2 linked regions of the Homo sapiens genome follow. The protein of the gene in region 2 interacts with the protein of the main gene of each other region in a pairwise test. Each region holds a gene or a part of one and is shown on either strand. Other genes may lie near its edges.

Evidence for each region.
Region 1: the proteins of MYBPC1 (region 2) and C1QTNF9 interact in a two-hybrid assay, tested with the Homo sapiens proteins (one large-scale study listed by BioGRID and IntAct).

Annotation. Positions count from the first base shown.
Region 1 is NC_000013.11:24,319,580-24,323,031, forward strand, and holds the end of C1QTNF9 (complement C1q and tumor necrosis factor-related protein 9A precursor), read left to right. Parts: intron 1-1,416; coding exon 1,417-2,189; 3' UTR 2,190-2,952; downstream 2,953-3,452. UniProt on the Homo sapiens protein: Probable adipokine. Activates AMPK, AKT, and p44/42 MAPK signaling pathways.
Region 2 is NC_000012.12:101,601,471-101,604,970, reverse strand, and holds part of MYBPC1 (myosin-binding protein C, slow-type), read right to left. Parts: intron 1-3,500. UniProt on the Homo sapiens protein: Thick filament-associated protein located in the crossbridge region of vertebrate striated muscle a bands. Slow skeletal protein that binds to both myosin and actin.

The sequences.
Region 1 (3,452 bases), on a different chromosome or scaffold from region 2:
AAACAAAAAAACATGTAAACCATATTTGTTTAGCTTGCGGGAGGGAGGCTGAATTTGGCCTGTGGCTGTAGTTTGTTGAACCTTGAACCTTGCAGTGGATGAGCACTGAGGAGTGAGACTGAGTTTTTGACTTGGTGCATCTGGCAGCACTGCATGGAGGAGGTGGAACTAGAACTGGTCCCTGATGGGTCGGGATGTAGTCGTAGTGGCAAACTTGTGTAATCTTCACTTTGTGCTTTTCATGTACTGACTCACTGAATGCAATATCCCCAGACGCTAGGTAGTTTTATTACCCTAGTTCCATATGTGAGGGAACAGAGGCACGAGGCTCACTAGCTCATCTGACGTCCTGTGTGCATATGGGGACAGAATGGAAACCTGGCATTTAACCTCAGAGTCCACACTTGCAACCACGGCTCTTTGGTATGGGTGGGGGTGCAAGGAAGCAGCAAGGTTTCTGTAGATGATGAATTGCCGGTGGGATAGGTGGGTTGGGGCTGGGGTTGGGCAGGAGAGGGCAATGCCTCGATGCAGGCTTTATTTTATGTTCACTCCAGGGAGGAGGTTTTTAGAGGATGTCACGACTAGGGTTGAGTGTCAGTTAATCTACCTGTCTCTGCTCTGAAGAGTGCTTTCTGTCATGGATTGACATTATTTAATGGCCAGCATGGTAGACTTAGATGGTAGGGTTGTAATTTCTAACGTGAGCCCTGACACTAATTTAGTAGACGGTAGTCAAAAGGTGTGTTGGGATGTGTGTGTGTCCATGTGCACACACGTGTGTAATTGGAGTAATTGATTTTCATTTATTTTTATTTTTTTTGAGACAGAATCTCACTCTGTTGCCCAGGCTGCAGTGCAGTGGTTTGATCACGGATCACTGCAGCCTCAGCCTCCTGGGCTCAAGCCATCCTCCCACCTCAGCCTCCTGAGTATCTGGAACTACAGTTGTGCACCACCGCGCCTGGCTAATTTTTGTATTTTTTGCAGAGATAAGGTTTGGCCATGTTGCCTAGGCTGATCTTGAATTCCTGGACTCAAGTAGTCTGCCCACCTTGGCCTCCCAAAGTGCTAGGATTACAGGCATGAGCCACTGAGCTGGGCTGGAGTAATTGAATTTTATTTTCTTATTTTTCTTTTTCTTTTTTTTTTTTAGAGTCAGGGTATTGCTATGTTGGCCAGGTTGGTCTTGAACTCTTGGCCTCAGGCAGTCCTCCTGCCGCGGTCTCCCAAGGTGCTAGGATTACAGGTGTGAGCCACTGCACCCAGATGGAGTAATTGAATTTTAAACTCTGGGCATATACTGAACCTGTGCACTACTTTGTTTCATTTGTGAGCTCAATTATAGAAAAACCAAAGTTGTTCACAAGGGAATCTTTCACAAGCTATCTCTTTATTTGCTCTTTCTCTATTTAGGAGCAGATGGAAAAGTTGAAGCAAAAGGCATCAAAGGTGATCAAGGCTCAAGAGGATCCCCAGGAAAACATGGCCCCAAGGGGCTTGCAGGGCCCATGGGAGAGAAGGGCCTCCGAGGAGAGACTGGGCCTCAGGGGCAGAAGGGGAATAAGGGTGACGTGGGTCCCACTGGTCCTGAGGGGCCAAGGGGCAACATTGGGCCTTTGGGCCCAACTGGTTTACCGGGCCCCATGGGCCCTATTGGAAAGCCTGGTCCCAAAGGAGAAGCTGGACCCACGGGGCCCCAGGGTGAGCCAGGAGTCCGGGGAATAAGAGGCTGGAAAGGAGATCGAGGAGAGAAAGGGAAAATCGGTGAGACTCTAGTCTTGCCAAAAAGTGCTTTCACTGTGGGGCTCACGGTGCTGAGCAAGTTTCCTTCTTCAGATATGCCCATTAAATTTGATAAGATCCTGTATAACGAATTCAACCATTATGATACAGCAGCGGGGAAATTCACGTGCCACATTGCTGGGGTCTATTACTTCACCTACCACATCACTGTTTTCTCCAGAAATGTTCAGGTGTCTTTGGTCAAAAATGGAGTAAAAATACTGCACACCAAAGATGCTTACATGAGCTCTGAGGACCAGGCCTCTGGCGGCATTGTCCTGCAGCTGAAGCTCGGGGATGAGGTGTGGCTGCAGGTGACAGGAGGAGAGAGGTTCAATGGCTTGTTTGCTGATGAGGACGATGACACAACTTTCACAGGGTTCCTTCTGTTCAGCAGCCCGTGACAGAGGAGAGTTTAAAAATCCGCCACACCATCCATCAGAATCAGCTTGGGATGAACTTATTCAGATGGTTTTACTTTATTAATTCCTCCAATTATTACAATAATCATAAAAAGGTGAAAATGGAAAAGTTATTCCCAAAACTGATTCTGTGTAACTTACTATTTTTCCAGGAGTAAATATTTAAAATAGCTGCATGGTTTATTCTAATTTATTTCACATTTCTTATTCCTATTATCTGAAGAATCCCTCGTCTGTGCGTTTCTTGTGGGAAGAGTGTTTTAATATCATTTTAGTGCTCTGAGGAGTCATATGAAGATGTATCCCTCATCTGTGTTTCTGAGGACATTAAGGGGAAATTAGAGGGAAATGTTTATTCAATTTAGTACTAGCAACAGCTTTAAGCTGGTGATGCTGTCATACTCCAGAAAGCTGTAGACACTGCTCATTTTGTCTTTTAAAAAAATTTTATTTTATTTTAAGTTCTGGGATACATATGCAAAACATGCATGTTTGTTACATAGGTAAACATGTGCTGTGGTGGTTTGCTGTATCTATCAACCCATCACCTAGGTATTAAGCCCTGCATGCATTAGCTATTTGTCCTGGTGCTCTCCCTCCCACTTTGCTCATTTTCTAACCTAGGTTTTAATCACCATTTTACCCAACAAATCATTGTTCGATCATTATTTGCCAGACTTGAATCTCTATGTGTTTTCTAGGACTGCTCTAATAAAGTACACAAACTGGGAGTCTTTAAACAACAGAAATGGACTTTCTCACAGTTCTGTAGGCTGGAAGTTTGAGATCACCGTAGCAGCAGGGCCATTCTCCCTCCAAAGGGGATACAGGAGGATGCAGCCTTGCTGCTTCCAGCTTCTGGCAGCTGGTGGCAGCATCACTCCAGTCCCCGCCTCCATCTTCAGGTGGCTGTCCTCCTTCTGTATCAGCCAAATTTTCCTCTTCTTACAAGGACAGCTTCCCTAATCTACTATGACCCATCTTAATCATATCTGCAGCTCCTTATTTTCAAATAAGGTCACATGTACAGGTTAGGACTTCAGCATCTCTTTTGGGAGACACAGTTCAACACAAAACAATCTGCCCTCTGATTCCCAAAGTTGATTTCCTTCACCTGTGCAAAATACATTTTCGCCCCATCTCAACATTTCCAAAAGTCTTAACACTTTCCGCGTCGAGCTTTCCTGAGCCCCTCTGGTGCAGCCACCTGCCTGTCCCATACACCCCGCCCACCATGGAGTCCAG
Region 2 (3,500 bases):
AGGTCACTTAAGGGGCTGAACCTGCATTTTGGTGACCCAGAAAGTCAGTGCCTTCTTAAATGTTGTGCCTTAGGTGGTGCTAAACTCTACTCAGCCAGATTAATTACCTGGAATGGCGTCTATAATAAAGGACAAAGGGGAGTGAGGGGAACAGTTTCATATGCTGACTGACAAGAGTACTAAAGAAGACAGCACACTTCTAGGAGGGATAAAGTAGGAAAGCTAAGAAAAATTGGAAAGAAATTCAAAATACAAATCAATATGAGTCCATTTTTCAAAAGAGCAAATAATTTGGGCCCTCAGGGTGTCACATGCTACTAATAACTGATATCTATAATTTAAGACAAATTATATCCACTGTACTTTATTTTTTAAAGCAAGGAGTAATATATTACATTTTAAGAATGTTTCTATTCAAACTGGTGGAAAAAATAAGGCTCTGAGGTTATATAACAAAATTAACCTTTAGCTGTGCAGAGAATCCAGCTATTCAGAATGATTCAATCAATTTAATCCATATTTATTTACTATGGTCGAATGTTGCCAAAGACTGTACTGTACTCTAATGTTCTGAATAGATGAAGTCTAATTGTACCTTGATCATGTAAATATTCAATGACTCATTATTCAACCTTTGGAATTTCCCTGAATCTACAGGGTTTTTTTTCCTCCCCTAGTCAATTCATTCTTTTGTCCTTCTAATTATGCAAGTTTCATCTCAGGATGTCATTTCACACAGGAAGAGGATTAAAATATGGTCCTTATTACATAGCAACAAATAGCTTCTCATTGTTAACATGGGGCTGGGGGAAAATTGCTAAGATCTGAGGACTTGCCTTCCTCACTACTCTTACCATGTTTTAAAGAATCAAATGGGGTGTGTTTTGCAGGGGAAGATTTACTCAGATTGAAGGAGCTTAAAATTTTAGCATAGGTCAAAAAGAAATTATTGCAAAAGCAATTTGAATTGTTAACAGTTTCCTCCTTTACTGTGTCTTTTTTGGGGATCTTGAATCAGTTATTATTGTTATTATTATTTTGAGACAGAGTCTCACTCTGCCACCCAGGCAGGAGTGCAGTGGCATGATCATGGCTCATTGCAGCCTCCTGGGCTCAAGTGAATCTCCTGCTTCAGCCTCCCAAGTAGCTGGGACTACAGGTGTACACCACCACATCCAGATAATTTTTGTATTTTTTCATGCTGTTTCACCATGTTGCTTGGGCTGGTCTCAAACCCCTGGGCTTAAGCAATTCTCTGGCCTTGGCCTCCCAAAATGCTGGGATTACAGGCATGAGCCATTGTACCTGATCTTGTATCACTTATTTATGTGGCTATAGGGTTATAGGATAAATTTCTTAAAGGCCTTGCTCCAAACTGTTGCTGGACCTCACATTGGGTGACTTTTTAAAAATAGAGGAAGAAGAGTCCTGACGCCAGGTGGGGTCATAAAAATAAAATTCCACCGCAATAAACACAGTGACACTCAATCAATCACCCACCACATCCATATGTGGTCATGGAGAGTTCTTTATGTGGTCATCTCAGGAAAGCGCAGACTGAGGAAGACCCTATCCACCAAAAAGCACCCCTGATAAGAGAGAGAAATCTTCTTTTTTTTTTTTTTGAGACGGAGTTTCACTCTTGTTGCCCAGGTTGGAGTGCAATGGCGCGATCTTGGCTCACCACAACCTCCGTTCTCCCAGGTTCAAGTGATTCTCCTGCCTCAGCCTCCTGAGTAGCTGGGATTACAGGCATGCGCCACCATGCCCTGCTAATTTTGTATTTTTAGTAGAGATGGGGTTTTTCCATGTTGGTCAGGCTGGTCTCAAACTCCCGACCTCAGGTGATCCTCCCACCTCAGCCTCCCAAAGTGCTGGGATTATAGGCATGAGCCACCACGCCTGGCCAGGGAGAGAAATTGTAAAGTCCCACAAACCCAAGACTTATAACCCTTGGAGACAGACATAGATATTGTTCAACTCTGTAGGGTAACTCTTTCATCTAAGTGGGAAAGGCCATGTCCCCACAAGAACAGTGAAGAAACAACCCAACCGTTATCACCTTATGCTGACAACTACAGACCCCCGAATTGGACATGGCTCATTTCAGTAAGAACACAACAGAGGTCATGGAGTATAGACCTTTTATTTGATCTGAGCTTCTATGGGTGAAAGCGAAGATGTATCACCACAAGTAAAAGAAGGAAATATAGTGGTGGGAATGATGGTTATGACTATCATAGCAGCTTTCTTGGCGTGTATTATAAATATTACACTAGTGAGGAGGTGAGCAGTGGTTGTTACATCCCTTATGTTGAGGGAAATGCCATCAGTTTATGTGAAATATGAGGCATTTAATACCTTGTGCCAGACAAGATTTCTGAGTTTACTGCTTTAGGAGGAAAATGCTTGAAATCTTTCCATATGTTAGGCCCTGTTCTAAGCACTTTACCTGTCCGGGCATGGTGGCTCATGCCTGTAATCCCAGCACTTTGGGAGGCCGAGGCAGGTGGATCACTTGAGGTCAGGAGTTTGAGACCAGCCTGGCCAATATGTTGAAACCCTATCTCTACCAAAAAAATACAAAAATTAGCTGGGCGTGGTGGCGCATGCCTGTAACCCCAGCTACTCAGGAGGCTGAGGTAGGAGAATTGCTTGAACCAGGGAGGTGAAGGTTGCAGTGAGCCGAGATCATGCCACTGCACTCTGACCTGGGCGACAGAGCAAGACTCCATCTCAAATAAAAAATAAAATAAGATAAAATAAGCACTTTACCTGGTGTATTTCAGTTAATTCTTACTGAGACCCAAAGAGTTGATACTGTTTTATTCACATACAGATGAGGAAACAGAGGCATACAAAGTGTAAGTAATTCAGTCTATGGTGCAGCTGGAATTTGAGCTGTCTAGAATGTTCTACAAATAGTATAATTTTTTTTATGTCACCATGTTTAATAATGCATAATATTTAAGATGCATAAAGAAAAAGCCAAGACACATACTGTGTGCATAACAACCCTAAAGACATCTAACTCTAAACATGACAAAATGTAGAATTAAAAAGGACACATTTTGAGTTTTAAGTAGAGCATTCTGTTCCAAGATTCATTAAAATTTTTAGAAGGCAAACGATATCACCAGATGCAAGCAAAGCAATTTATAAAGAGTATTTAGGAAAGATTTGGACAATTTTAGAGAAGAAGAATACTTACCAAAATAGCTAAATACACATCAAAAAAAAAGAATAGAACAAAATCATAAGATCTAACATTTGACATATTATTAAATGTAATTTTAGACGCTGCCCTGATGTGCCAAATTGGCCTAAAAAGGATTCCTAAGGGAGTATAAAAGGGCAAGTCTTATCAAAGTGGATTTAGACTTGAAAGGCATAATGAAAGTCAGATTACAGTTAGCTTTTTGTGAACTCATTATAGAAAGAGAAATAAGTGTGAGATTGAATGATTCTGGTCTCCGCCTCTGCCAAATCAATCAATTCAT